4 separate regions of the Homo sapiens genome follow, and all the other regions are reported to be linked to region 1. Evidence: microRNA targets listed by miRTarBase, many of them from high-throughput screens and not tested one by one. Region 1 holds a microRNA gene; each other region holds the end of a gene's coding sequence.

Region 1 (7,638 bases):
AGTGGGCATCATCTGCAGTGAGGCTGGCAGCTCATTATACAGAACTTTTCCACCCTTTGAGCTGCTCCAAAATGGAATGAGCTTCTTCATGGAAGTGGAATTTTCCATCCCTGAAGGTTTTCAATCAGAAGCTGGCTGATCATTTATTGATATGTTCTAAAAGGACATAAAAGCATTAATAGCTGTTATTAATTGAGCCTAAATTATTTCTGGCACAATGATGGGTTTATTTATTTACCTTTAATTTTTACAACAACCTTGCAAGATATAGATGTATCACCAATTTATAGATGGGGCGGTCAAGTGACTTGTCTGTGGTCACACAGCTAATTAGTGATAGCAAACTTAGCAACATATACCTTCTTTTGAGTAGTGATGTTTATTTTCCTTTCATGAGGGCCTGATGAAGTGTAAATCCTTTCTCTAGAAAAACACTGACAAGGGCCGGGCGCAGTGGCTCACGCCTGTAATCCCAGCACTTTGGGAGGCCGAGATGGGTGGATCACAAGGTCAGGAGATCTAGACCATTCTCACTAACACGGTGAAACCCCGTCTCTACTAAAAATACAAAAAATTAGCCAGGCGTGGTGGTGGGTGCCTGTAGTCCCAGCTACTCGGGAGGCTGAGGCAGGAGAATGATGTGAACCCGAGAGGCAGAGCTTGCAGTGACCAGAGATCGCGCCACTGCACTCCAGCCTGGGCAACAGAGCGAGACTCCGTCTCAAAAAAAAAAAAAAAGAAAAGAAAAACACTGACAAGTACAATTTTGATACAACTACAAGGGTGTTTTACAACTAAACCAGTGGTTCTTAACCCTGTTTTATAATAGGAACACCTAGAGAGCTTTAAAAAAAATCACGAATGCTAGGACCCCCATCCCAGACCAAATAAACTGGCATCTAGGGATGTGGATCCCAGGCAAGTTTTGTTTTGTTTTGTTTTGTTTTTGAGACATCGTTTAAAGTTAAACCATGGATTCTTAAGCCAGGGCTTCTTAAAAGAAGATTAAGTCTTAATCAATAAGTCTCAATTAAAAACAAAAACAAAAAACAAAAAAAACCTGCCTGGGACCCACACCCCTAGATGCTAATTTATTTTGCCTGCGATGGGGATCCTAGCATCTGTAATTTTTAAAAGCTCCGTAGGTGTTCCTATTATGAAACAGGGTTGAAAACCACAGGTTTAGTTAGGTTGGATGACCTATAAAGTCCATCTCAGTTCTTATAATACAGTAACATACAACAGCAAATCCATTCTTTCTGATCTTTCTTACACAGTAGTTTGGTTTTGTGCCAATGAATGAGTCATGGGAACACTCCTTCATCCATCACCACACATACCGACAACTGGAGGCCAGCCTCTATGTATATATGTTTGGACATTTCACTTGGATTCTATGGACTGCTTCCTTATTGTTAAATTGAATTCAATTCCACCAGTATCTATCAGGGACCTATTATGCACCAGATGCTACATGAAACTGGGATATAAAGAAAAGCAACAATCATCTCATGCTATAGAAAAGTCGTAATTTAGTAATCTAGATTGCTCTCTTTAGTGCTTTCTTATTTTAAAAGTCGCGTGATTTTTCATAAAAGAACTCTGCGGCTTGCACCCAGCTTTGTTGGGAATCCATGTTCTTTCTTGAGGTGATATAAAATGTAAGTTGGAGGTAAGTACTGTGTGAGTTAAGACACAGGCTCAATTGCTGCAAGAAGTTCTCTTTAGCATAAGAGTCTGTGTGTGGCTGTGTGTGGTCAGTTGGGGAATGATATGGTGTCTCCAAAGTGTCAGAGACCCAAGCACCTCTTATCTGATTACTATACCATTCTTATTTGATTACTCTACCACCCTCAAATGGTGGCATCCATTCTTTAGTTTAAGAGGGCTGCTTCAGTTATTACCAACACATCTGTATTCCAAGCAGTGAGAAGGGAAAGACAGGATCTTTCTCCTTAGGAGAATGACCTAAAAATTGTACATTCACTTCTGTTTACATCCCATTGACCAGGACTTAGCCTGTTGGCACACCTACCTTCAATGAGGCTAGTAAATGTGGTCCTTAGAATAATTGGATATCTAAGTCCTCTCAATGTTGTTTTCTTATAGTAACCCCTTATTTGTCCTTTTCTACTTTCTTCCTTTAAAAATCACTGATAAATATGTAATTGAAAAAGTCTCTTTTTAGTCAATATTAAATGATGCTGATAGTGGCGGGGCACAGTGGCTCATGCCTGTAATCCCAGCACTCTGAGATGCTGAGGTGGGTGGATTGCTTGAGTCCAGGAGTTCGAGACCAGCCTGGGCAACATAGCAAAACTCCATCTTTACTAAAAATACAAAAAATTAGCCAGGCGTGGTGGTGTGCGCCTGTAATCCCAGGTATTCAGGAGGCTGAGGTGGGAGAATCACCTGAGCCCAGGACATCAAGGCTTCAGTGAGCCGAGATCACACAACTATTACAGCCTAGGTGACAGAGTGAGACCCTGTCCAAAAAAAAAAAAAAAAGAAGATGGTGATAGAAAAACTGCAGGAAAAAACAAAAAAACTCCATAGAATCATTGCCTATCAGCTGTTTGATAAACACTTTAAGCTTGTAGCATTCTTCAACTATTGACTTCCGGTTCTACCTCTTTCTCTAATTAGCAGTGTGATTTCAAATATGTCACTTGACATTTATGCTTGGTTTTCTGCAAAAAGAAAAAAAGTAATATTTAACTGTCGGGGTTGTTCATGTGATTGAATGAATTTATGGATGTAAAAGTGTTTTGAAAACTAGAAAGCACAGTGCATATGCACAATGGATGGTATTGTTTTGTTGTTACTGCACACTGCACAATGCCCTGTATTGAGGCACAGCTTTCCACTGACAGAATCTTGAGGTGTTACAGTTCTGGAGCAGTTACCTTGGTCCTATTTCTAGACTCCAGGGGCAACCTGGTGCTTCACTACCAGACTCTTCCAGCTGGGGATGGGTTCCCTGGCCAACTGCAGATCCAGAAGGCAGGTCAGGTTACTACCTATATTTCTTAACTGCCTGTTAAATAAGCAAGGAGTCCTTTTGGTTTTTCTTAGTGTATGTATGTATGTATGTATTTATTTTTGGAGACGGAGTTTCATTCTTGTTGCCCAGGCTGGAGTGCAATGGCACGGTCTCAGCTCACTGCAACCTCTGCCTCCTGGGTTCAAGCAATTCTCCTGCCTCAGCCTCCCAAGTAGCTGGGATTACAGGCATGCATCACCACGCCTGGCTAATTTTTGTATTTTTTTCAGTAGAGATGGGGTTTCACCATGTTAGCCAGGCTGGTCTCGAACTCCTGATGTCAGGTGATCTGCCCATCTCAGCCTCCCAAAGTGCTGGGTTTACAGGCGTGAGCCACCATGCCTGGCCCCTTAGTTTTTTAATATTAATATTCATTGGAGGTACTGTCAGCAAAAATCCAGAATTACAAGTTAATTTTTCCCAAACTCACACAGTAGAGGTCCCTGTACCTTCACTGAATTGCAAGTTCACTTTCTACCCTGAGTTACTCATGTCTTCAGTTTTGCTTTTCTTTGTTCTTTCTTTCTTGTTCATTCATTCATCAAGCACTTTATTGAGTCCCTACTATGTTCCAGGCACTGGGTATCGTAGGTGCCTGGAACATAGTAGGGACTCAATAAAGGAGCTATGCTTCCTTTATGTGAATTAAATGTCACTGATGTAGCTGGCATTTAGTAGGCTTTCAGTAGGTGTTGGTTTTCTTTGTCTGCCCCTCATTTTGCTTAATTAACCTACCAAATGCATCTTTGACTCTAGTGTGTCCAGAAGAAATGGACAGTGTTGATGCTCTAAACATCCCCAGCGTAGATTGTTTTTCAATGTGCACAACACAGATAAGTCACTTCAAAGTCCATAGATAAAGGGGCTTCTTGCTGATTTCATCAGAATGAGTAGAAATTGCAAGATAATTTTTGTTTTGCCTCCCACCCCCAGCTTCATGTACAGATCACACTGACAGAGTATCTTCAGCTTTTATCTTTCCTCCCTTCCTTGATCTGCCCTTCATCAAAGCATTTTAGTTGTAAAGTTAAATAGGGAAGAATGAGGAACGAGGCATAAATCATCCTAACTTCTTGCCACCCTCCAACCTTATATTCTCAAAAGACATCATTGGACTGCACCATTGTTTTGGTAACAATACACCAGTTTTAAAGTATTTTCTTGTTACCTTTCTCCTTTTTGATATTCATCTAATTTTCCTTTCTTTTGTAGGCTGTCAGCCAGATGAAACAGCAAAAATATCCAACAAAAGTCTCCTTCAGTTCACAAGAGATACCATTAGCACCAGCTTCATCATACCATTCAACAGATGCAGACTTCACAGGCTATGGTATGATTCTTTCTCTCAGCAGATCTGGCTCATTAAGCCTTAGAGAAGGCAAGGGATCATAATGTCCTAAAACGAGAACTGGACCAGGAGGCAGAAGTCTGACTCTGGATACTTCCTCCGCTTCCTTAGCTTTGGGGCTTGGATAGGTCACTTCATTTCCTACATCATTTTTCCTCCTCTCTGCCATCGCCATTGCCTGTTGCTTTTTGAATATAAGAGCACTAGAACAGAACAGGACCTCAGTAGGTCAGGAGTTCAAGACCAGCCTGGCCAACATGGTGAAACCCTGTCTCTACTAAAAATACGAAAAATTAGCCAGGCATGGTGGCGCATGCCTGTAATCCCAGCTACTCGGGAGGCTGAGGCAGGAGAATCGCCTGAACCCAGGAGGCAGAAGTTGCAGTAAGCTGAGATTGCACCACTGCACTCCAGCCTGGGTGACAGAGTGAGACTCTGTCTCAAAAAAAAAAAAAAGGAAAAGAAAAGGACCTCAGTAAATGTTATTTGAATCTGAGGCTTCTGTATTATTCTTCTCTAATCTCTACAAAAGATTATATTTAGGTCTTGAGTAATATCTCTTTAAAAATCCTATCAAACCCAATTTTTAGCCCTGCAAATGTTGCTTTAAGCTGTTTGAAGAATGTTGATTTTCAATGCTTAAAGAAATTGGCATGCACATTCTGTCTTTAAATTCCTGGCTTGAATTATGCTGACTGGGGGTTGAAAATAGAACTTTATAAAGAATAATAGGTATTTCTACTTGCTTTTTTTTCTTTTTTTTTGAGACAGAGTCTCATTCTGTCACCCAGGCTGGAGGGCAGGGGGCTGATCTCAGCTCACTGCAACCTCTGCCTCCTGGGTTCAAGTGATTCTCCTGCCTCGGCCTCCTGAGTAGCTGGGATTACAGGTGCTCACCACCATGCCCGGCTAATTTTTACATTTTTAGTAGAGATGGGGTTTCACCATGTTGGCCAGGCTGGTCTCAAACTCTTGACCTCAAGTGATCTGCCTGCCTCGGCCTCCAAAAGTGCTGGGATTACAGACGTGAGCCACTGTGCCCAGCCCTACTTTGCTTTTGTGCAGTATACATCAGTAAAAAATAAAACTCTTTAAAAGACAGTACTCACCAATGGCAAAGCATAACCCTGCATTAATTTAGCAGTTCTGAAATCTTTGTGGTATTTGCCTTTTATATATTTTTTCATAAATATTAACTTCATAAAGTTCATCAAGCAGGTACTATTTTAAAGCATTGTAGATGTACTAAAACATTTGATGCATGTGGTCAGAAAACTATGGCGCATGGGTCAAATCTGGCCTACCAGCTAGTTGTGTATGGTCTACAAGCTAAAAAAGGTGTTCACTTTTTAAAGGTTGAAAAAACACCTAAGAAAATTTTATTAAAATATTCTATGAAATTCATATTTCAGTGTCCACAAATACAGGTTTATAGACACTCATTTGTTTCTGTATTGTCAGTGGCTTTTTTCACACTATAATGATGGAGTTAAGTAGTCACAACAGAGACAGTCTGGCCTGTAATGCCCTATTAAAATATGTATACTTGGCACTTTACCAACAATGCATGCTGACTATGGAGGTAGACAAGTTGAGTTTTGGTAATATATATCACATATTTATACTTAGATGACAGAAATTCAGCATCCTTCCTGGTTTTCATTCTCATGGTTAAATAATAAATAAACAAATAAATAAATAAATGAAGTTCATCATCCTACAGTTGAATCTATAGAAATTTTATTCATTTACTCATCTACTTACCAAGCATTTATTGAGGACTTGGTATGAGCTGGGTTTGGGGCTGGATTCCATGAGAGAAGTAAATAAAAAGATTGACTCAGGACTGGCTAGGGTGAGGCAAACGTGGAGGAGGGAAAAGAAATGCCATCTCCAGGATGTCTCACCAGGTTTTTTTCTCTCTTCTCACTCAGGAGACTACGCTAGTCATTTACAAAGGCAGTATAAACTTTTTATTTACTTATCTATTTATTTATTTGAGATGGAGTTTTGCTCTTGTTGCCCAGGCTGGAGTGCAATGGTGTGATCTCGGCTCACTGCAACCTCTGCCTCCTGGGTTCAAGTGATTCTCCTGCCTTAGCCTTCCTAGTAGTTGGGATTACAGGCATGTGCCACCATGCCTGGCTAATTTTGTATTTTTAGTAGAGACAGGGTTTCACCATGTTGGTCAGGCTGGTATCAAACTCCTGAACTCAGGTGATCCGCCCACCTCAGCCTCCCAAAGTGCTGAGGTTACAGGCGTGAGCCACCGCACCCGACCTAAAAGCAATAGAAACTTTTTAAAGCACCCATGAAAGTGTGCCACTATCGTACGTCATTTTTATTGTAAATTAATGGGAAATGTGGTATAAAATACATATGCTGCAAAAAGATTTAAAGACAAATTTGGTTTACAATTTAATATTCTGCCTTGCCTGTATCTTACCTAGAGCCTTTCTTTTTGTCTTATTGGCAAGATTTTTCTATAAAGAAGTCGATAGTAAATATTTTAGGCTGTGGTCCACACAGCCTCTGTTGTAGTTTCTCACCCCTGCCATTGTAGTGTGCTAGCCACCATAGGCTGGCCATAGGCTACTTCTAAATATGGCACTTTTTATGGTTGTATCACTGAATTTCTTGCTGTTAACCAGGAGGCCTTTAGATTAATAAATTCCATATGGATGGGAACAAGATATGTGAATACCCACAATGTGCCAGACTCTGGGCCGGGCACCTCACACACACTGTTCATTTAGTTTCTCTAACAGCCTCTTTAATAGTGGTTACATGCATTTTTCTGATGAGAAGTGAGCTCCACTTTCACCCTCCTGTTAAATTCCTGCTTAGGAACTCAACTGTGGCTCTGTGCCACTCCAAAACCTGTGCCTTTTCATCTCAAAGACCATGATTATCACTTAGTTAGAGCAGAACCCCCACAGGCTTACCTAGAGCCTGTTTCTTTTTGTTTTATACCAGAGATTGACAAGCTTTTTCTATAAAGAAGTAGATTGTAAATATTTTAGGCTTATGGGCCACACAACCGCTATTGCAGTTACTCACCCCTGCCATTGTAGTATGCTAGCAGCCATAGGCTAGGCATAAATGAATTAGTGGGTTTGTGTTCCAATACGACTTTATTTATAGACACTGAGATTTAGACTCATATCATTTTCACATGCTTTGAGACATTATTTTTCTTTTGATTTTTTTTCAAGCTTTTGAAAGTGAAAAGCCATTCTTGATCCGC
Region 2 (7,638 bases), not on the chromosome of region 1:
CAGTCCTACAGAGTAATTGTTTTTAAGTGATATTTTCTGCATAAAGAAGCTCAAATCAAAGAGAATTCATGTCTGAGACTACTTTGGGTTTATTTACTGTTGGAACTGATGCACTTAAACAAAAGAAGGATTGGGGGAATTGGAGAGAGTGTAGCAATGATGGTCCTTGGTTCTGGAATGATAGATGTTGGAAGAGAAGTGTGTGCCTATAGTAGAAGTTTGCCCTGTCTAGCACCCAGAGATGAAAGTATTTCAAGAAGGAAGTGGTGTGGTCAGCATTGTCAAATCTAAGGTCAAGGACCAGGAAGATGGAGAGGATGCCATTCAATTAACAACAAATGAGTACATTCAACCAGTTTGTCAGAACAAATTCTGTGCATTGAGAAAGTGGGCATGAGGTAAGTGTAGTTTAAAGAGGAGGTAGATTTTAGGAAGCAAAAATAGCTTTGTAAACTCTAGAGTGTGGCAAGAAGAGGAAGGAAAGATAAAATAGAGGAGGTTGGAAATAGGATAAAAAGCTAAAAGGAGGACCAAACTAAAGTACAATTTTTGTTGCTGTTTTTCCAAAATATGGTGCATCTGTATATATAGTCATGCACCCTATAATGATGTTTTGGTCAGTGATAGACCACATATATGACAGTGGTCCTATAAAATTAAAATACTATATGTTTACAATAACTGTTCTATTTTTAGATATGTTTCAGTACAAAAGTTCTTACTATTGGGTTATGGTTACCTACAGAATTTAGTACAGTAACATGCTGTATAGGTGTGTAGCCTGGGAGCAACAGGTTGTATGGCACAGAGCCTAGGTGCATACTAGGCTATACCATCTAGGTTTGTGTAAGTACACTCTGATGTTCACACAATGATGAAATCACCTGACACATTTCTCAGAATGTATCCCTGTCATTAAATGATGCATGATTGCATTTAAAAGCAGAGGAAAAGAGAAATAAGCGGTGAATTCTAAATAGAAGTCTTAAGTTTGGGGTTGAGGTTCTTGAGGTGTTAGGAAAGGACAAAAGCATGGGGTATAGATGAATTAGCTGAAGTGGGAGAAATTGTTTTCCTTTCAAGACCACGATGAAGGGTGAACCAAATATAACGAATTATTGAAGGCAAATCTTAATAGAAGGCACTGTTACTGACATTTGGAAGAGCATAATTAGAACCTTAAAAAAGGTTTTTTAATTAAAAAAAAACTGTTCATTAAAAAAATCACAGATAATACCAATTATCCATGTATTCATTTAAGTAAAAATATGTTAAGTATTTCTTTGTCAAATAGTCTAATATATATATCTTTGTCAAGCAAAAGCATGGATTTATAATATTTGTCAATAAAGACACGTCATCTAGGATTGACATAAGATTTAATTTATATACTTTGATAATTGTATGGAAAATGTATCATTAGTATAGATATTAACTCAATTTCATTTTAAAAAGAGGTAAAGCAATTTTGTTTTAAAAATAGGAAAATAATAGATGAGTTTGGTTTTGAGAGAAATGTTCTGTTTTTCTTTTATAGTTCAGCTACCTTGATCTAAATTATTGGTTTTAGTATTGATTAGCGTTTTGATTCAGTGGATTGGAGATCACAAACTTCAGTGTGTGGCTTCATTTGACTCCTACTTTTCCCATTTGCTAACATTGCCAACCCTGGGTTTCCTCTGTAACATTGGAAGGATTCTGATCTCAGTGTTGTAAAGATTAATTAAGAGAATGGATATTAAGTTAGTTTCTAGTTTGCTATTAGGTAACTACTGTTCATTTATCAGTTTGGAGTTAAACAATCTCTTCATCTATTATTTTTGTGTACTGTTTCCTATCAGTAGTTTAAAAGTAATGAATCTAGTCACAGGAGAAAAGTATGGGACAACCACCCCAAAACAACCATTTATTTACCTCATTGCCATCTTTTTTCTATTTGTGTCTTCTTTTACGTTATTAGACTCATACTTAACAAAACTCTGAATTGAAAAAAATTTAATATTGTAACATAGTTTTTTATGTCTGCAAAAGCTTGTCATAGATAATAGTTAATACTTATAACAGTTCTTCATTTTATTGCAACTTAATGTGTACAACCATTTCTCTCTTGCTCAACTTTTAGTTTCTTTTCCCACAGTGAACATCGTTTTCTATATTTTGGGTTATGTTCAATTACCAGTTGTTCAGTGATAACTGATGTTACTGATAAGAAATTTTATTGCCTTCAAAAGTTTTACATACTTACATTTTATAATATTTATGTAACATGTGTATACTTTGTTTTAATAACTACAATATATATTTTGTTGAATATCCTGCCATTTTTCATTTATATCATGAGCATTTTATCCTATTATAAAATGGTTTTATTTCCTCCATTTCCTGGTGATGAGAATTATGAAATCATTTTTTAAAGGAAAATTTTAAATATTTCATCATACAAATGTCTTGTAATTTATTTTTTTCTGTATTTTTAGACAAAAATTATTTTCCTATTAAAAGTACTTTAATGAACAGTTTTGTATGTAAGTCTATGTTTATGTCTGATTTTCTTTTTTGGGATACATTTCTAGAAGTAGAAAAAAGGATGCAGAGTATTGATATTTTAAATATTTTTGATACGTATTGCCAGATATATTTTTGACATATGTTGCTTTCTGTGGGCACTCATTGCATAATTATAAAGCTTTTTTAAAGTGTCAGACAGCGTTCTGGGTGCTAGAGATATAACTGAACCAAAAGAGCACAGATGTATTAGCTGGGTGTGGTGGCACACGCCTGTAGTCCCTGCTGCTGGGGAAGCTGAGGTGGGGAGATCGCTTGAGCCCAGGAGGTCACGGCTGCCATTGATTGTGCCATTGCACTCCAGCCTGGGTGACAGAGTGAGACCCTGTCTAAAAAAGAGGAAAGACAAAAAAAGCACAGATGTATTGTGTATGAGAATATGGCTTCACTGCAGCAGCCCAAGCACTGAATATTATTGATTTTTAAATCTTTGTTATTTAGCTAAATGAAAAATGCTCTCTTTTAGTTTGCTGTTCATAGTTTGCTGCTCATAGCTTCTTAGTTCAGAATTTAATCAAATGATTTTGTTTTCTTTATAGATTGTGCCAAGGACTTGAATGGATGATGTCACGACTTAAGATTAGATGATCTCTACTGACCTCTTCTCATAGATTTTGTATAAATGAAGTGCTGGACTTTACCTGAAAGCTGCAAAAATTAATGGTTTAGATATATTTATAATAAACTGATTTAAACTTTTTCTATAAGAAGAAAAATTAAGACCACTTATTTGAAAACAAAGATGAAGTCTCACCTTCCAGTTTGCTTTCTCATTAGTTTTTTCCAAAGTAAGTTATTGAAGCTGTGATTGACATTTTTCTCATAATGAATCCTCTCAGGACATTGTGTAGCCTATGGTAAGTACAAAGGGAGAGGAAGACATTTTGAATTTTAAGAGCTTTATTATCAGTTTAACCCTCCCTAGTTGAATGTTATTTTCTTCTTGTTCCATTAAGTCAGAATACAAATCAGCACAGATATTCGAATGTTTCCAATATTTTAAAATGTAATGTTACTTATGAAAAGTATTTTGCTTAAGGTTGTGTGTGTATTGTGTATATACCTCAAGTTCAAGTTAATGGCATTGATTTATGTTCCAGACAAAAATAACACAAATAATAATATCCTTCGTTATAACCACAATGAGATAAGTATTGGCATTAGTGTTCAGTGCCATTTTATACTTTCTCTCTGTGTTCTCTGTATTGTACTAACCAACCTCCCAAATCGCTGAGCTGCTTGTTTAAAAAAAAAAAAAAGGAAAAGGAAAAAGCATGACATTGTGTATCGATTTTTTGTTGTTGACCAAAATCACACACATGGAAACATGTAATTCAACAGAGTGGGAAAGCTAGCAGATTCTTGGCTTAGTATTACTAATAGGCAGGATTGTACAATGAGCAACTATCAGATTATTCCTTTCAGTGGTTCTTATGGCATCTAAATTACTGAATAAATTATTAATCCATTAATCAGTGAATCAAATTATGATTACAATTATCAAATGAATGCTCAGCATTAATTGAAAACTGTTTTGTGAAACATGTCTACCCAGAAAAGTAGCATTCTATAAATACTATTAAACAACTTAGCTATATTATTTTTAAGTATTAAATTATATGTCAAGCAGTTAAAGTGAATTTCAGAGTAAAAGTAAGGCATGTTTCTGAGCAACATTGATAATTTCTTAATTTGCAAATTTCTTCTTATTTTGGTACTTGGAATATAGTGTGAGATTTTTTATTTCTAAATTTTGTTGTATCTTCTATTACATAAATGCATTGACAATTATAAAATGCAAGTGTTTTTTGAATGATTTTAAGAATTTGGCTTAAAAATTGATTGATACAACGTATTATTTGTACTAAGAAGTAACTTGACCCAAAACACCTTTTATGTTTGCTTAGGGTATATTTTTTCAGTGTCTGAAAGTCAAAGGTATTCCTGTCACAACTGTAAACAAACTTATCCTAAATGTGTTAAAACATATTCTTGGGTACTCTATTTATGTATCTTTCATGCCTTGAAAATCTGAAGGTTAATCCAAACTCACATGTTTTAGCATATTTGAGAAAAAAAAACTACCTTCAATATCAGCCTTTTAAATTTCATGAAGATTTTGGTGAGGAATAATAGTATATAGTTTAAGTATTGACAAAACTTTGAAAGTTTCTTTCTTTAAAATGGGAAATACTCAATATCTAAATCCAGGTCAGGCATGGGATATCAGTATTTAACATTGGATGTTTTATGTTTTATATTTATAATGTTCAAAATGCAAGCATAACATTTAATATTTGTCCACATGGTTTTACAAAAGTAAATCTTAAATTACTAAGCTTTTCCCATATGTTCTCGTACTTTCTCAAATCCCTATAAAGAATTACTTGTTATCTATTAAAAATCTCCTTTACCCAAATCTGTATTATGGTTTCGCCAGACAAATATTATGTGATGTAGCCCAGAAAATCCACACCTTTTGTCCTTTTTATGTTTTAATTTGAATAATCATGTGCTTAGTCCCTTGGATTACTGCCACATCAGTTTAACACGATATCAGCACATTCCCTTGTCATCATCAAGGTGTTGGCTCAGATTTATTCTTAATTGGATGTTTAAAGCATGTACTACCTTGTTACAGTTGGTTTAGTGTAGTGGATTATTGACATGACATCATGAGAAGATGTGTAATTTTATACCACATTTATAAAACATGATTTTGTTTTCTACCCTTCAAGGTAAACATTAAAAATAAGGTGGTACTTGTGTACTTGTACATAAAACCAAAATTATAGTTGGGAAAAAAATAAATTTATATATGAAAATGTCAAAATCATTTTAAAAGTATTATTTTCAAATAAAATGGAGAAGCTGGTGAAAAGTCATATTGGCAATTTTTATGTAGTTTAAGTGGAATTAAGCAGAGGGAGATGCTTTTGGGTTTTTAATATGCCACTTCTGAGTGAAAACATCTCGTGGAGTCATTGTGTTCAGCTCTGAGAAGAACAAAGATTCATAGTTCTGTACATGTGGCTGGATTTAAATATCCTGTTTTTGATACTAATTTTGAAAGTCATGTAACTTCTTTTGATATCTGGGCAAAAGTAACCATATGCTATAAGCATTTGAATATGTTTAATTTTATCATAATAGCATCTGTAAAAGTACATCTTACACATTATATAGAGGGTTCTTGTTTGAAATTTTCAGTTCTCTTTATCTTCCCAGTACCTCTTGGTCCTCATAATGGGCAAAGGATACAACGAAGGCAGGTTGTATAGGGGTTATAGTGGGGAAGTGGATAGGGGATTCATTTTCTTATGTGACATTTTGCCTTAAGAATATAAAAGTGCTTTAGCACTGATGGCTGGCATTTTTAATATAGGCAGTGAAAGTGACTTTAGAAGCATGGGATGAAATAGAGGGAAGAAGAGTTTTTATTTTCTGGCCTTTAAAAAGTGCCTAGTAGGTCATTTGAGACCCAGAGAAATGCACAGAGCTTGAGCAAAGGCATGAAGTCCCTGACATTGTTTTCCTTTTTGTCTCAGCATATAGTATTAAGATGCCTAGAAATAGGACTCTATTGTTCCCTCTTGTATAGGCACTTTACATTTCTTGTCACTACAGCAACCACATACAGTACAGACAACCTCCAAACCTGTTTATATTAGTGTAAATAGAAAATCTATAGACAACTTTCTAGTTTTCTCTGGAGGCATTTTTGGGAATGTACGTGTAATAGGCTCTGCTTTGTATACAGGAGATAATACCACATCATCGGTTATCTCCAAACTCCAGTCTTCTCTCAACTGCCCAGTTGTATGTTGTCATCAATCACTTTTTCAAGGCTGGGTAGAGACAAGTTTCTCCTCGTAACTTTGACCTCTCCCACTCTCCAAATGTAATCTGGACCTCATTGCTTTCAAGGTCAGCTTCCCCATAGCTCAGGTATCCTTTGCTCTCCTGTATCTTCATTTACTATTAGTGAAGAGATCTCTGTCCTGGAGGTTATTCTAAACTTTCTTTGTAACTATTGTTATAGACAATGGTTTCCAAACCAGTGGTTTCTATGTAGCTTTTCTAGTTCCTTGCTATCTTCTCACCACTGGCTTGAGGTAGTGATTTGGACTTTGCTCATTAGAGAGCATTATCAGAGATGTGGAGTCCATCAGAAGACCAGCTTGCAGTGTGTATAGCATATAGATGCCAATATTAGAATTCTTTAAATTATATTTAACATTTTCATGCTTCTTAATTTAACTTCACATGTTGGGAAGTAGATTCAGAAAGATAGGAGAAATACCCAGACTCTACCACTTCCGTGAGCTACTAGTTAGGCATGGGCAGGATTAAGTTTTATGTGTATTATCTTCCCACTACCAAGAATGGTTATGTTTCACAGAATACCAGTTCAGTTTGATTTGGAAAAAGATGCCAAACCAAATTTATATGTAGTCTATAATCTAAGGGCATTCTTGAAACTATTGCCCACATCCCATTTTTTTTTTCATGTTTACTTACAAAACAGAGATAAACATTAGATGTCTAAAGGAGTTAGTAATGAAAAGCCTATCCTTAAAAAATAAACCTGTTGAAATGGGCTTTAAAGACATCGAAATAATCACTTGTCATGCATTGACTGTAAATGCAGATAGAGAAATATGTCTTTGAAGCTCCACTTACACAAAAATAAAACTTGTATATCATGCTCCCTCAAAGAATGTGCGATAGATTATTTTAAGACCATGATAATAGAGTAAAAAGGAAAGAAAGCCAGAAATTACAATTTTGGATGCTAAAAAGTAACTTTCTAGTTAACCCTAAAGTCCTGTCAGATTGTGAAGAAATGTTCCAGGATACACTTGGATTAGTTATGCAGTATTTCTTATCAATGTCTAGCCCTTGTGTATTGTTCTGAAAACTAAAGTTTAAATCTTTATGCTGTTGCTTGCTAGATATCCTGTTCTTTGGTAGAAAATTCCCATAGTCTGTACTCAAGAAGTGCCTAAAAATGGATTTGTGTTGATTTTAAGCCCATCTAATAAATTATATGTATTTTCTATGGTATCGTAT
Region 3 (7,638 bases), not on the chromosome of region 1:
GGAGGTTGCAGTGAGCCGAGATGGCAGCAGTACCGTCCAGCTTTGGCTCGGCATCAGAGGGAGACCGTGGAGGGAGACGGGAGAGGGAGAGGGAGAGGGAGAGGGAGAGGGAGAGGGAGAGGGAGAGGGAGAGGGAGAGGGAGAGGGAGAGGGAGAGGGAGACGGGAGAGGGAGAGGGAGACGGGAGAGGGAGAGGGAGACGGGAGAGGGAGAGGGAGACGGGAGAGGGAGAGGGAGACGGGAGAGGGAGAGGGAGACGGGAGAGGGAGAGGGAGACGGGAGAGGGAGAGGGAGACGGGAGAGGGAGAGGGAGACGGGAGAGGGAGAGGGAGACGGGAGAGGGAGAGGGAGACGGGAGAGGGAGAGGGAGACGGGAGAGGGAGAGGGAGACGGGAGAGGGAGAGGGAGACGGGAGAGGGAGAGGGAGACGGGAGAGGGAGAGGGAGACGGGAGAGGGAGAGGGAGACGGGAGAGGGAGAGGGAGACGGGAGAGGGAGAGGGAGACGGGAGAGGGAGAGGGAGACGGGAGAGGGAGAGGGAGACGGGAGAGGGAGAGGGAGACGGGAGAGGGAGACGGGAGAGGGAGACGGGAGAGGGAGAGGGAGAGGGAGACGGGAGAGGGAGAGGGAGACGGGAGAGGGAGAGCAAATCAAGTTCTTTTAAGATGGAAAATATTTTCAAGGTAGGGAATTGTCACTGCAGAGTAACCCCAAGTCTTTCAGCAAGCCCCAAAACCTGTGAAATTAACCAGTGTTCACAGCTGTGCTTGCTTTAAAAAATGGAGGCTGGAAGCCAGTAACCACAAACAAGCCACAAGATGAGAAGGGAGCTCAGCAGTGCTACCCTGACCTGAATCTTCACCTCATTACCACATTGAAATCTCCGCCCTGGGGGGTTGGGGGATTGGGGGTGGAGGTGCACTTTGCCGGGGCACATGCAGTGCTGGAGTGAAGGAGAGACTGCACACACTCCAGTTCTCCCTGGAAAGCCCTATCTTTCCAGGAATCCCCGCCCCCAGGCTCTGCCTACTGCCCTAAGACATCTTACAAATCCCTCTTCGCCCTACTCCCACCCCCCCACCCCCCCGCCCCAAGAAGGTGCTTTGAGCACAGGCTCCCCTTCTCCATTCCTTGATCAATGATAAAGTTTCTGCTCTGCTTAACCGAACCTGGTCTCAGTCTATTGGCATGAACGGCACCAAGCAGGGAAAAAACCCCACTGGGATCAAATACCCCCTTGAGGGTCGGTAACAGAATCAGTACAAAGGATGCAAGTATGAGCTCCAGAATATAGATGAAAATGCTCAGCAGAAAAAAAACAAAAACAAACAAACCAAAAAACTTGTCCAAAGGTGGCTGCATCCAGACCCTGTCAGATCCTCACAAATGACAGCTCTTTACCTCAGGGGCATCGGATAATATCAGGCTCAGGCTGTTCCAGGAGTCGGAGTCCCAGCTCAGTATCAGGCCGTTCCTTCTCCAGGGTTCTCAGGAACTCTGCCGTCGACGCCTAGGGGTCTCTAGTGAGGGGAAGTGGCGGCAGGCCGGCGATTTGGGGCAAGGGGTGAGAGTCAACGAAGCTGCCACTGTGATGACAGTGGCCCTAAGATCCCTCTTCTTACCCTCCCGCCCCTCCCCGAGTGCTGGAGTCTTAGCCTGTGGGACACCCCTCCCCGCGCTCTCTCCTCCCACCCCCGCCAAGCCCGCCCCTTCGTTGCCAGAGCCAGAGGGCTCTCCTTGCGCGCTGTCGGTCCCCAGTCCGCGTGCGGCGAGTCCGGGGACATCGGCGCTTCAGGGCCGCCAGCACATGCCCCGTGTGGATGCCCACGGCCTCCCAACCGGGCCGGGCTTGGGATTTCTCTCCCAGCCTCAGACCCTGGCCTGTCCCCCTCTGCCCGAGGGTCATCGCTCCGGCCTCGACGCCCTCCAGCTGCCGCCCTCGCCCCGCTCCGCGCGCCTGGGCCCGGGTGTCCTCGCAGGGTTCCCACCGCAGGGGACCCCCCACCACGCCTTCCCCCGCCTCAGAGCAGCTGCTGTCTGACCAGGCGCTCCTGTCGCCTCAACGCATGCCGCCCGACGTGGCCCCCTCCCTCCCGGCGCGTCTGTGACCACGGCTTCGATGGCCTTGTCCCTGCCCCCGGGCCTTGGTCTAGCGCGCGCCGCACAGGCGTCCTTCCCCTCCCTGACGACCCTGTCTCCTCCCTCATGCCTTGTGGCCGGCTGTCCCTCCCCCACCCCCAGCCCCACTCGGCCTCTCCTAGCCTCCCCCTTTCTCTGCACCCACGAGTCTAAAGGACAGCGCCCCCCTCGCGATGTCCCGCAGCTGGCCCTTGGAGGTTCCTGGGTGTCGCACGGCTTCTTCCTTTCGGGGACCCCTCTCCTTTCCTGAGTGGCCACTGGCGCTCCATCTCTTGAAGGGGTACCCCTCAGCAGCTTGCGCCCCCTGACGCCGCCTTCCCTGTTCCTAGGGGCGGAGGGAAGCCCTACCCCAGGTATCCCCCAGCACATGTGTGCACCGCTGTAGATCCCCCCTCTCCTGAGACGCAAGGCCCCTCTCGCTGACACCGCCTCCGCTCCGGTTCCTTATGCTCTCCTTGACTTTATTTTTCCGGCCAGGCCGAAGTTGTTGCTGGATCCCCGGCCCACAGTCCAATCCCATGAGAGCAGCCTGCGGGGTGCGGTGGGGGAGGGCCGGCAAACACATCCACCCAGCAGCCCAGGTCACACACAGGCCGATAGGAAGGCTCGCCCTTCTTGGCCCAAACCGAAGGGCTTCCACCATGCCCATTCTCCCCAGACTTGCATTTTTAAGCCTTTTAACTCTAAATGGACTTCTTTTTCTACTTTTAAAGGAATTTCAGGAATTACGTTGATGGTATCACGTTTCGCCTCTGCAAGCTCTCTAGCTTTATTGCCTGTTATCTCTATACCCTACTCCCACTTGCCTGCCCCTAGAGTTGTCCATTCCATTCTGTTTATCTTTCGTTTTTATGTGTTCTTGCCAAAAATTGTCTTGTTTTGCTGACATGCTTTTAAATTTGTGTAAGAGGAATTGTATTCTCATTCCATTTCTTTTTCAATGCTAAGATTTTAAGATTGGTTCATGTACCTTCTGCCCCTTCTAATTACTGCCCCTTGGGCCCATCTGCCTTGTTTTACCCTTCCCTTTACCTATCCTGCTCCCACTAGTAACAGTGCAATAGGCATTCTCATAATACCCCCTTATGCTTCACTTCTCAAACAGGGTACAATGTATCACCTGGGAATCTTGTTAAAATGCAGGCTCTTGGCCAGGCACGGTGGCTCACGCCTGTAATCCCAGCACTTTGGGAGGCTATGGTGGGCAGATCACCTGAGGTCAGGGATTCAAGACCAGCCTGGCCAACATGGTGAAACCCTGTCTCTACTAAAAATACAAAAGTTTGTCGGACTCGGTGGCAGGCGCCTGTAATCCCAGCTACTCAGGAGGCTGAGGCAGGAGAATTGCTTGGACCTGGGAGGTGGAGCGCAGTGAGCCGAGATTGCACCACTGCACTCCAGCCTGGACAACAGAGCAAGACTCTGTCTCAAAAAAAAAAAAAAAAAAATGCAGACTCTGATTCGGCCTGTCTGGAGCAGGGCCTGAGACTGTATTTCCAACCAGCTTCCAGGTGATGCCTGTGTTGCTGATTCTGGGACTACATTTTGAGGGGCAAGGCCCTTATGGACCTCTGTGAAAATTCATTCTGGGGTTCTGGGTCCTAGGGTATATGTGGATCTAATTTGATGAGTATTGCCCATCAGCTCTCTAGTCTGGGTGCACCTCCTTACCCCATACCAGCTGGGCAGGAGGGTAAAAGGTATATAGTCTGTGGGGAAAGGAAGAAGGTCTTCTCCTTGCTGCTGCCCACATCCCATCCACTAGAGCATCTGGTCAGGGCCCCAAACTCCTCTCTCCCTTCATTGGAATGGACCCAAGGCTCCAGAGCAACGTCCCTGGCTAGCAATGCATGGCCAAGTCAATGATGGATCTAGGCCAGGCAGCCTGGTCTCTGCCCTCACCACATGGGATCCTGAATCCTCAGCTTGCCATCTAGATTGGCTTGACTCATGACTTCCCTAGGCCTGGGCTTTAGCTCTGATAGGAGCTCTTGAGAAGCCTTGGGGTCTTCAGTTAGTTAGGTTGTTTGTGTTTCCTTTGCCCCCTTCACCTTCCCTTGAGTAGCCTGGTAGGACTCAGATGGCCTGGCCTTGCCACTGGCAACTGGCTATCCTGGGCCTGACTTCTCATCTCTAAAATGGGATGGTCACAGCATAGCTATAATTTGTGGTGCTAGGAGTGGTCCCAGGTCCTTCACTCACATGCCAGAGCCCTAAGACAGGGGTTCTTGCCTTAGTTTTACCCATGAGGAAAGTGAAGTTGAGGAAGGTTTAGCGATTTCCACTAAGGGCATGGAGTTAGTAAGTGAGAGTGCTGGGACTCACGCCCAGCCTCAGCTCATGCACCAAAACCCATCCAACCATGAGACCACATCAGCCCCATGTCCTACCTCGCTCTCACTACCATGCCATAATGCGGGAGAAATACAAAGAAACAGAAAGGAAGGACTGGACCTTGGGTTTTGGCACTGATGCTGAAGGCATCTAATCCGTGGCATGGAGGGTTGCAAAAGTCTAAGGCAAAAATGAACCAGGGTTCTAGGGGCTAGCCCCAAGGCCCTGAGTATTTATGGGACAAAAGAGGGGGACCTTGGGTCTGGGGCTTCAAGAGCAAGGATTTTAGGGTTATACATAAAGCAGGGATCAGAACTGGGCAGGAGTTGGGGATGGCCAGGGCTTGGGTGGGGGTCAGGTGTGGATAAAGTTGTCTATCATGTACCTTACTTGGTAATTACCGATCACTCAATGTTTTGTTGGAGGGGCCAGCAAGTGAACGAACGGCCAGCATTCAGGGCATCAAAGGATTGCCCTTTCCAAAGCCCTTCTGGTGCCTGAGCGGCTTGCTGGGTCAGTTTTGGAAACCCTGGGGCTGTGCTGTCCCCACTCACACAGCTGTGCAAGCATCTGGCACCCAGCCCCAGGCCCAAGCATTTCATAATCAAAATAGTTCAACATCTGCACATTTTGAGATTTCATGGCACATGACCTTTTACATCTTGTACACACTTAACCGACCTCTTGTTTACCATTTTAGGGCCAAAATTCTATCCAGGACAGAGAGTTGATCTGAAAGCCCAGAGAAGCTTCCTGTTCCTTCAACAGTCTTTGGGGTCAAAAGATCTTATGCGCCTACAGAAAGTTCTTAGAGCTCAAAACAACATCTTACAGGTTTTTGGCTTCTACAAAATGCTTCACAAATAGATATTGTCTTTGACTCACAACAACCCCATGACAGAAGTGGCCCACGTAACATTGAGGCTCAAATGAATTAATTGGCCAAGGCCACACATTGTGTAAGTGGGTGAAATGGGATTTCTTGATCATTTTTCCATAACAGACCTTGGGATTCTTAGAGAGTGAGTAGGTGCTGTCTGACCCCAGTTGGCCCATTTCTCAGACTTGGGGATGCAGACTGAGGCAGGAAGTAGGAAGTCTAGGGAGGAGGATGCGTGGGCTGCAAGGTTTGGAGAGCGAGTGAGTTGAGGTCTCCTGGGGCTTCTGGCCAGCCTTCTCCCTGATAGATTTTTGTCACTGGGACCCTCTCTAGAGTCTGTGGTTCTCCTGGAAGTGGAAAGAGGGGATTGGTGGGAGGAATGGCAAGGCCAGTGGTACCCAGGTAGAAGTTCTCAGTGAGTCTGAAGCTGAGACAGCTGAGTGGCTATGAGAAAAAGATGCTGTCAGTTGCCAAGGGGGCCCCACGGGTATCATCACATCCATATGGGCGCTATCAGTGGCTTGGTCAAGCTCTGCCCCTGGCTAAGCAATTTTCACCAATGGCTAAGCCATCTGTCTTGCCCCCTCTTCTCAAAGCCCCCAGCCCCTCACACCAGGAACCTGCAGCATTGACTTGAGGAAGGAGTCCGGGGTCAGGCCAGTCTACCTGTTAGGGACTAGGGGTCTGGGCCCTGCCAAGGCAGGGAGCCCTGATCCCATTGCCCTCCCTCTCCCCGTGGGGTCTCAGGCCCTAGGCCAGGGCTCAACAGACACAGGCAGTGGGATGGGGTTGCCCTTCTATTGATCCAAATCCTGAGTGTCGCCTGGGTGAGTCATGGAGGTGAGGAGGCCCACAAGGCTCAGCAGTGTGGAGAAGAGCAGCAGGAAGGAGGCCGTGAAGAGGAGGGCAGGCAGAGCACTGAGCACCAGCAGCAGGAGAGCCGGTAGCAGGTGGCGCCACACCGCGGCCACGACAGGCCACAAGGAGCTCAGCAGGTGGGAGCCAGTGGTGAAGAGTGCATGGCACAACATCAGTGCCAGCAGCAGGTAGAGTATCCCCTCCAGACCCCACAGCAGGCGCTGCAGCGGTTGCCGCCAGTTCGAGGTGCTCCACCACTGGATCCAGCTCGGGGGCATGTGGCTCACCCACCAGCGCACCCAGCCATGCCTCGTGACCCAGGCTGACCAGGGCACTGCCTGCTGTGGCCCCTCGCCAGCCCCGATGGTATCTGTCTCCACTCGCGGCTGCTGCATCATGTCTGGTGCACCTGGGGAGAGGGCCAGGGTCTTGAAGATGCCTGGGACCTTGGGGGGGGGGGGCAGAGAGGGGGTGCAGGGGTCAGGAGGGCACCAGTGTGCGTGGGGTGGGGCTACAGAATTAGGGACTGGGACTTACCTCTGGGCAGTTACCTAAGTCATGTTGCTTCCTGCAGCGCCCAGGACGGCCTGGCAGGCAGATCCAAGTCCCCACTCTCATCTACCCCCACCCTCCCCAGAGGAGCCCCTTTGTGACCCGGGCTGGGGTGGGGTCCAGCCAAGAGAGGAGTCACTGTAGGGTGTGAGGCCCACCCAAGTCCCTCTGCACGGACCCTCCAGGCTGGCAGGGGAGCCTCGGAGCCCCGCAGATGTAGTTTCTCATGCTTTCTCATGGGAAGCCCTCCCTGGATCCCTGTCCCTTTCCTGCTTTCCCTGCTGGCTGATATCCACCCCTTTCCAAACTGCTCTCTCGCAAGTCTTTCTGTCTGGACCTTCATTCTCTAGAGCCACAGAGGAGGCCAGAGTGGCTGCCCCCAATCCACAGGCTCTGAGGTGGCTGCCACATTCTTCCTTGGGCTCCCTGGCTAGTATCCTACCTTCTCTTGCTGCCCAAAGACTCAGATCCAGGTATCTGATACCTATATTATAGGACTGTGAGGTTCAGGCTGGGAAGAAAGGGGTATCATCCCACCTGCCCAGCCAGGAAGGAGAAAAGGGGGCCTGATGAAGAAGGGTGGTCATTGTATATTTGAAGGACACTGAGTTGTGGGGAGGGGCTCTCAGGCCCAAGGATGGAGGCAGAAAGCCAGGCCAAGCAGGGTCAAGGGCATGCCACAGGCTCTCAGGAGCGGGCCCAGCCCCATGAGCAGCAGCAGCAGTGCGTCCTGGAGGCTAAGTTGTCCTGAGACTGTACCCATTTGCAGGAGTAGAGCCTCCTGCTGTCCAGGACCTTCACCGGCCCCCTGACTCTGGCCCCTGGTGAGAAGTTTGCGCTGTGGCAGAGTGTGACCTGCGGGCCTGTGGAGAGAGA
Region 4 (7,638 bases), not on the chromosome of region 1:
CTGATCTCAGCAGAGTGAGTGGTGGAAACCGACAAAACTGTGTTTGCCAGCCGCCCTTAGATCACAGTCCAGCAAAGGCTTAATGGTTTTGAGGGGTACAGCAGGGACCTTGGGAGGTTGGTCGATGCCAGTGTTGACAGGAATGGGTTAAAGAATCATGTTTAGTGAAAAAAAAAAAACAACAGAGCACAGAAAAACTAATAATCATATTTGTAGCTAGGCCTCGGGAGGAATCCACCAAGCCCTGTGGCTTCAGCGTTACCTAACTTCACAAGGCCCCTATGCAGTGCTGGTTCCTACCACTCTTGGTTTGCCTGGGCCTGTGCTAGGCACCATGAGAGGTGTAAACAAATCAGTTAGTGCTGTCCCCAGAAGAGTGAGAGGCAGCCAGTGTCCTCATTGCAGCTGGGGAGCAAATACTAAGGCATATTCCACAAAGTGAGCCAGGTACCAGTCATTCTATGAGGGAGGAGAGCAAGGGGCAGGAGGCGGCATGGAGGAAGGCTCCATGTGGATTCCAAGTGCAAGTCTGACTCTGGAATTTGCTCCCAGAAGCAACATTTATTGCTGCTTTGTTTCTCCCCACAGGGTGCTGGCCCCCAAGTGTGCAGCCTGTGGGCTTCCCATCCTTCCACCTGAGGTAAGATGCCCTTCCAGACATGCTCCCAGGGGCTTCTAAGACATGAATATCTCCCTGGGCTCATTTACAAGATCCATGTCCTGTCCTTACAGCTTTTAAGGTATCCTTTTAAAAATCTCAACTCTGGCCTGGTGCAGTGGCTCACGCCTGTAATCCCACCCCTTTTAGGAGGCCCAGGCAGGAAAATTGCTTGAGGCCTGGAGTTTAAGAACAGCCTGGGCAACATAGCAAGACCTCATCTCTACAAAAAATTGTTAAAAATTGGCCAAGTGTGGTGGCATGTGCCTGTAGTCCTAGCTGCTTGAGCCCAAGAGTTTGAGGCTGCAGCGAGCTATGATGGTGCTACTGCATTCCAGCAGGTGACAGCAAGACCTTGTCTCCAAAAAAAAAAAACCAAAAAAAACCCCACTTCACCTTTGAGATAAGTCGTGTCTTCACCCTTCCTTGTTGACTGGCTTCCCCAACCCAGTACCCTTCTTGTGCTGATTTGTCCCCATAACCAGGTCAAACTCCCTTACTTGATACTAATTCTTAGATTAGCAGATGAGGAGAAAGGCTTGTCTTTTCTTCATTTTTTAAAATAAGTGTCCATGTAGGTCTTTCTTTCAGTGTTAACTCTGACATTCTAGAAGGAAGGACTCCTATCCCTCCTACTTCCCCTCTCATCAGCTTAAATGTATTCTTCTTCCAGTAAGTACTCCTGATTTACCTTCTCCTCCCAAGGCCACCTACTTGTTACCCCCAAAACCCTCTTCCCTCCCCACCCCACGGTACATCAAGCCCGACAGCCCCCCTAACAGGCCTCTCCTATGTGTTCTTGCTTTTCTCTGGTCCCAGGGCTCAGATGAGACCATCCGTGTCGTGTCCATGGACAGAGACTACCACGTGGAGTGTTACCACTGCGAGGTAGACCCCTCCCCACCCAGCCCCCAAAGCCCATTGTAGACATCCAAGAGAAAAGCATCCTGCGTTGACTGGGGCAAGAGGCAGTCAACAAGATTCTGGCAAGGGTCAGCCCTCTAGAGCTTCTGTAGGAAATGGAATGAAGGCTGGTTCTTGGGGGAGGTAGGAGAAGATGGAAATGCTCAAGGTATAAAGGTCTTTCTTCTGCATATTCAGAACTATCAAGTCCTGCAACTGTTGGAGCTGCTCTCCCTGAAGCTGCAGAGCTAGGAGGGTCGTGGAGAGCATGGGTTTCAGGTCCTATCTGCGGGCCACATTGTCAGGCAGGTGTGCGATTTGGGGAAGGGACTCCCTCCCCTCCAGCTTGCAGGCTGTTCTATCTGCCTGAAGCTCCTTTCTCAGCTGAGCCCTGGAAATCATGAAGCCCCTCTTGGAAACAGGCATGTCAGCTGGTGGTGTGAAGGCGGGTGGGGTCCGCCTGCCCCTTCCTGCCCTTTGTCCCAACCCAAGATGAAGGAGCACTAGTACCTGATGACTGTCAGGAAAGCTAGAGGTTGCCCCTCACCAACCCTTGTGAAGGGTGACCATGGAATTTCAGCCACAATTAAGTGAATTCACCCATGGAAGGAGATTAGATTCATTTGGTGACCCTGTGGGTAGAGAATGGGGGTGTCCCTCATATAGACTTGTCCCACTGCCAACACTGAAGAAATGGGTGGGAATCATTGCTGCTGGGACCCCAGGTGCCCCAGGTCACTGCAGGAGAAAAAGGTGAGGACATTTGCTCAACAGGCCTCTCCACATTTTCTAGACCAGTGCTATCCAAAAGAAATATAAGGGGCCGGGCGCGATAGCTCACGCCTGTAATCTCAGCACTTTGGGAGGCCAAGGCCGGCAGATTACTTGAGGTCAGGAGTTCGAGACCAGCCTGGCCAACATGGCAAAAACCCATCTCTACTAAAAATACAAAGATTAGTGGGCGTGGTGGCACACGCCTGTAGTCCCAGCTACTCGGGAAGCTGAGACAGGAGAATTGCTTGAACCTGGGAAGTGGAGGTTGCAGTGACCTGAGATCATGCTACTGCACTCCAGCCTGGGCAACAGAGCAAGACTCCGTCTCAAAAAAAGAAAGAACTATGAGAGCCACAAATTAAAGTCATGTATCATTTTAAGTTTTCTGGTAGTCACAATTAAAACGTTAAAGAATTATGAGAGCCACAAATTAAAGTCATGTATCATTTTAAGTTTTCTGGTAGTCACAATTAAAACGTTAAAAGAAACCGGTGAGATTAATTATTTTATTCGGTTCAAAATATCCAGCCAGGCATGGGCCCATGCCTGTAATCTTAGCACTTTGGAAGGCCGAGGCAGGGGGATCACATGAGCCCAGGAGTTTGAGAACAGCATGGACAACACAGTGAGACCCTGTCTCTACTAAAAATACAAAAATTAGCCAGGCATGCTGTGCCTATAGTCTCAGCTACTTAGGAAGCTAGGATCGTGTCACTGCACTCTACTCTGGGTGACACAGCAAGACCCTGTCTTAAAAAAGTAAAAAATCCTGCTGGGCGTGGTGGCTCATGCCTGTAATCCCAGCACTTTGGGAGGGCAGATCACTTGAGGTCAGGAGTTCAAGACCAGCCTGGCCAACATGGTGAAACCCTGTCTCTACTAAAAATACAAAAATTAGCCAGATGTGTTGGCGCGTGCATAATCCCAGCTACTTGGGAGGCTGAGACAGGAGAATTCCTTGAACGGGGGAGGTGGATGTTGCAGTGAGCTGAGATCGCACCACTGCACTCCAGCCTAGAAAACAGAGGGAGACTGTCTCAAAAAAGAAAAAAAAATCCAAATGTTATCTTTTGAACATGTAATCAATATAAAAAAGTTACCCATGAGATTTTTTTTGTAACTCCACAATTTATTTTATTTCTTCTAAAAAAAAAAAAGGGATACGTGTGAAGATTTATTACATAGATATATGTTGTACGTGTGCCAGGGTGGTTTGCTGCACCTATTGTCCCATCCTCTAAGTTCCCTCCCCTCACCCCCACCTCCCAACAGGCCCTGGTGTGTGTTGTTCCCCTCCCTGTGTCCATGTGTTCTCATTGTTCAACTCCCACTTATGAGTGAGAACATGTGGTGTTTAGTTTTCTGTTCCTTTGTTAGTTTGCTGAGAATGATGGCTTCCAGCTTCATCCATGTCCCTGCAAAGGACATGATCTCATTCCTTTTTCCCATGAGATATTTTTACATCCTCTTTTTGTCCTAAGTCTTCGGAATCTGCATTTACACTGACAGCACATTTTAAGTGGTTCACAGCAAGTGCCTTGTGGCAGTGTCTCCTGTGTTGGACAGGCCTCCACGGGGCAGGAGCTGTGTTTCTGCACTGGCATTTCCTGCCTATACAGAAACACACAGCACCCTCTGCTGATTTTGGGGACTGTGGCCTTCAGGTCAGTCTTGCAGTCTGTTTTGTTTTGCTTCCCCTGGACATGTCTGCCTCCCCACAGGACTGTGGTCTGGAGCTCAATGATGAAGATGGCCACCGCTGTTATCCGCTGGAGGACCACCTGTTCTGTCACTCCTGCCACGTGAAGAGGCTGGAGAAGAGACCCTCATCTACAGCCCTTCACCAGCACCACTTCTAGCCAGAGCCACTTGCAGACATCACGGCAGGGGATGAGGAGCCGGGGTTGCTGCTGCTGCTTCCGGTGGCCCCTGGGGTGGAAGTGGGGTAGGGGAAGAGGAGGGGCAGGAGGGAGAGTTCCTGTGAGCATGTGGGGGGTGCCTTTCCTTTAACCAGGGAGGTGAACACTACCTGCCTCCTGCGTGTATTTTCCAAGTGCTTTTCTCTGTTGCCACATTTTCCTCAGGTTACTCAGGAAAATGCTCCAGCATGTGCGAGCACATGACCTGAGGTTGCATCATAGCACCAAAGGAATCCTCCTGTCCCCTCTGGGAACATTTCATGCTTCAGAGGGAGAGGTTTTTATTGAGCTTGTTTCACAATATCCCCTTGAAGGGACAGCTCAGCTGCCAATACATTCAACCCTTTCTCTTCCTTCAGGAAAATACCTATACCCAAATGTTCCCTCCCCCGACATATATCATGGCATGATTTAAGGCTTCTTTTCACCTGAGAGCTTCAGTTCTTCTGCAGAATGGCTGCAAATTTAATTGCATTAAGGCAAGAAGGAAGCTCTAATGTGTGCTTTGTATCCTAAGATAAATTTGCTTAGAAAACCAGAGTCAAGATTTGAAATAGGTGAGGCAGGGTTTCCTCCTTAGACACTGACAGCATTCTCTGTACCCCTTCAAATCCTTACTCTCCTAAAGGCAGCTGAGTCCGCGACAGAAATTTGCCCTATGTGAGTAAAACATACTTTGGGAGAAGAACTTGGTGCAGGCACCAGGATTTTTTTTTTTGCCCACGTGTTTGCGCTGTTTTTCTCTGGAGTTCTCAAGAGTTGGTGACTTGGAAGGCCGCTTCTGCAAGGCAAGTCTCAGGAACCCATGCAGGTACATCGCTTGCACCTGTTTTTAGCTTATTTAATGACGGGCTTTTGGGAAGAGCTGCCCGCATACTGAGAGACAGCTTCTTATAAACAAGGAGAGTTTTTGTGTGTGCGAGATCTCTAAGCCAGCGTGGGAGGGAGCGCCTCAGGATAAGTTATTATATTCATTTCGTTGGTTTCTCTCCTGCCCAATTCTTGGCACAGGCATTATGTTTGAAGAAACCAGGATAAGGTACACTGCTTTTGTCTGTTTAATTTTTTTAGTTGTTTCCCTTCACTTTCAGTCTTCCACACACAAAAAATACCTCACAGAGCTTCACCAAATCACAGATTCAGGAGGAATTTGGCTTTCACACTGGACTCAGATACCTTCTTCAGTGTGTTGGAAATCACTGGCTTCACACAGGCCCAACTCCAGCTGGTCAGGGCAGAGTGATCGTAACTAAAGGTCAGTGGGGAATAGATCCGATTCAGTGCTTTTGCCTTATGCATTTCAGCATCCTGGCTCCCCAGGGTGGCAGGAGCTGAGGGAGGGCCACACACTGGCAAGATTTCAAGACCACTCTCTGCACTGAAGAGGTAAAATTTGCACTGCAAGTCACATCCCTGAGGCCAGAGGTCAGTACCCTTTGGTATTTCGATTAGAAGAAGCTGCAAAAGAAAGGCAGCCCATTTTACCATTGCCAGCCAGGCCGGGGACACAGGAGCCGGTGTGTGCACTCTGCCTCCTCACCTTGCACCCAGAGCAAGAGGACTGGGTGCTGGGCTGCAGAGGCCGGTCAGTGGAGCCCCTAGCACGTGTGAACTCAGGCTTTTCATTGGGCCCGGCTCCACTTCTAGGCCATGTTTTGACTCATTTGGTAACCATTGCCTGTAAGCAGCACAGAATTGGTGCCATGGATTATCTTTTCCATGTTGATGGAATTCATTCTGTTGGAATCCTTTGGCCAGATGTCACTTCAGCCAGGGTGTGCATCATCATTGGTTCTTTTTCACAGGCTGAGCCTCCTGAAAACCCATGAACGCTGGGGCTGGGGAAGTGAACCCTGAGGTGGGGACCCTCTCTTCCCATCAAATCATCCAGCTCAGTGTGGGGCGTGGCAGGGGGGTAAATGAAGCCAGCCAATGTGTTAACCTGTCTCTGTCAACCTAAGAATGTTGGCCTTACTGACACACCTTTGCTCCATGTTCAAGACCAGAAGTAGCTGGGATTTGTTTGCAAATTGGGTAATTAGTTTAAAAATCTGTGATTACATTTTTAAATGAAATTTTCAAAGTGGCCTAGATTGAGGTGATTCAGATAGGTTTGCGAATATACCATTTTATATTGTTGAGAAAGAACAAAAAGGGAATTTCCAGATGTCCTAGAAATCCTAGCAACAGATTTCTCTGGTTGTCAGTTTCCCTGGAGAAGGCGCCAGATAGGAATCTCCAATCAGTTGTTTTTCTCTTCGCTTCAGGCCCTTACACAAAAGCCATGAAGAGATGTTCACCTACCCGGTATTTTAAATGTTCTGTAAATTATTAGCCAAATAGAACTGTAATGGGGTTGTATTTATGGGCGCCTAGAAAGAAAACACAAGGACTTGGTAGGCCAGGAAGAAAAGATTTTAAAATTTAGAATGAATAGCCCTTCTGGGTTTTCTTTTTGACAATTCTTGGACTTGAGGTAAAACAAGGAGGATTGTGGCCGGATTTCAGATCCCAAAGCCAGCCTCCATCTTAGGCCTTTGCCTCATTGTGCCTTTTAGGTTTTCTTACCCACCGTCTCCTGTTTTGTCTTTTTTTTCTTTTCTCCTACCCCTATCTTGGGACATTCAGAAACTGCCTGGGTGGTTTGAGAAGAGACAACCCAGTTTGATCTGCAATACAAGGATCCATTCGTAATCTCTCTCTCACTGATGTTATTCCCCCATCTGCCGTCTTGGTTCATCTCACCACAGAAGGGCATTTAGTCCTACCCAGCCATCGGCTGCGTATGACAGCAGGATGGCACTTCCCATTTCTCTGTGGTTAGTGCTCGAGTGAAAACCTCTTTCAGCTGAGTCCTCTGAGGTTCTGCTGTTGAGTCCTGGGTGGCTGATGGAATGATTGAGGAGGTCTGGTCACCCTCAAGCGCCGTCATCGCCTTGTTTCCATGGGCTTCTGTCACACAAAATGAAGAACAGAAATGTTAGGACTTAAGAGAATGTTTGGAATTCACACCTCTTTGCAGTCCTTTCAAGGCTGCTGCTCTGTGCTGTGTCCCATGCATGTGAAAGTAGAGCTGTGATGGCTGCTGGGACGCTTGCAAAGATCATGTGTGAGAATTGAGCACAAGACCACAAATTATTACTGCTTGATGCGCTTGTTAAAACTCTATCTGCCAGGAAACCAAATTTTCTTTTCTTTTCTTTTTTTTTTTGAGACAGGGCCTCACTCTGTTGCCCAGGCTGGAGTGCAGTGGCGCGATCTCAGCTCACTGCAGCCTCCACCTACTGGGCTCAAGTGATCCTCCCACCTCAGCCTCCCGAGTAGCCGGGACCACAGGCGTGTATGACTGGCTACGCCTGGCTAATTTTTGTATTTTTAATAGAG

The links. Region 1 holds the annotated microRNA hsa-miR-3116 (UGCCUGGAACAUAGUAGGGACU, at 3,600-3,621, opposite strand). A microRNA usually pairs through its seed, bases 2 to 8, with sites in the 3' UTR of a target mRNA and lowers its output. Matches are read on the target gene's strand: a 7mer-m8 pairs with bases 2 to 8, a 7mer-A1 pairs with bases 2 to 7 and ends in A, and an 8mer does both.
Region 2: miRTarBase lists ARL5A as a target of hsa-miR-3116. The part of its 3' UTR that is shown has no 7-base or 8-base seed match.
Region 3: miRTarBase lists TMEM239 as a target of hsa-miR-3116. The part of its 3' UTR that is shown has no 7-base or 8-base seed match.
Region 4: the mRNA of LIMD1 is a reported target of hsa-miR-3116. The part of its 3' UTR that is shown has no 7-base or 8-base seed match.

What each region holds. Positions count from the first base shown.
Region 1 is chr1:62,075,195-62,082,832 of GRCh38, forward strand. MIR3116-2 (microRNA 3116-2) reads right to left here and starts at 3,662; the gene lies at 3,595-3,662. PATJ (PATJ crumbs cell polarity complex component) reads left to right here. Exons shown (of 44, transcript NM_001350145.3): 32 at 4,256-4,373. MIR3116-1 (microRNA 3116-1) reads left to right here and starts at 3,592; the gene lies at 3,592-3,665.
Region 2 is chr2:151,798,791-151,806,428 of GRCh38, reverse strand. It overlaps ARL5A (ARF like GTPase 5A), which reads left to right. Exons shown (of 6, transcript NM_012097.4): 6 at 3,105-7,632. The coding sequence ends at 3,153. Among named protein-coding and RNA genes, the nearest start is that of ARL5A, 26 kb to the left of the region's middle.
Region 3 is chr20:2,815,525-2,823,162 of GRCh38, reverse strand. It overlaps TMEM239 (transmembrane protein 239), which reads right to left and starts at 6,799. Exons shown (of 2, transcript NM_001167670.3): 1 at 6,748-6,799; 2 at 5,101-6,619. The coding sequence starts at 6,608. The coding sequence ends at 6,150. C20orf141 (chromosome 20 open reading frame 141) reads right to left here. Exons shown (of 3, transcript NM_001256538.2): 3 at 7,333-7,625. The coding sequence ends at 7,388. RefSeq lists a cis regulatory region at 1,488-1,869 and a silencer at 6,243-6,302.
Region 4 is chr3:45,672,866-45,680,503 of GRCh38, forward strand. It overlaps LIMD1 (LIM domain containing 1), which reads left to right. Exons shown (of 8, transcript NM_014240.3): 6 at 589-640; 7 at 1,478-1,546; 8 at 4,057-7,638. The coding sequence ends at 4,194. It overlaps LIMD1-AS1 (LIMD1 antisense RNA 1), which reads right to left. Exons shown (of 3, transcript NR_033947.1): 2 at 6,181-7,206; 3 at 5,300-6,066. Among named protein-coding and RNA genes, the nearest start is that of LIMD1-AS1, 12 kb to the right of the region's middle.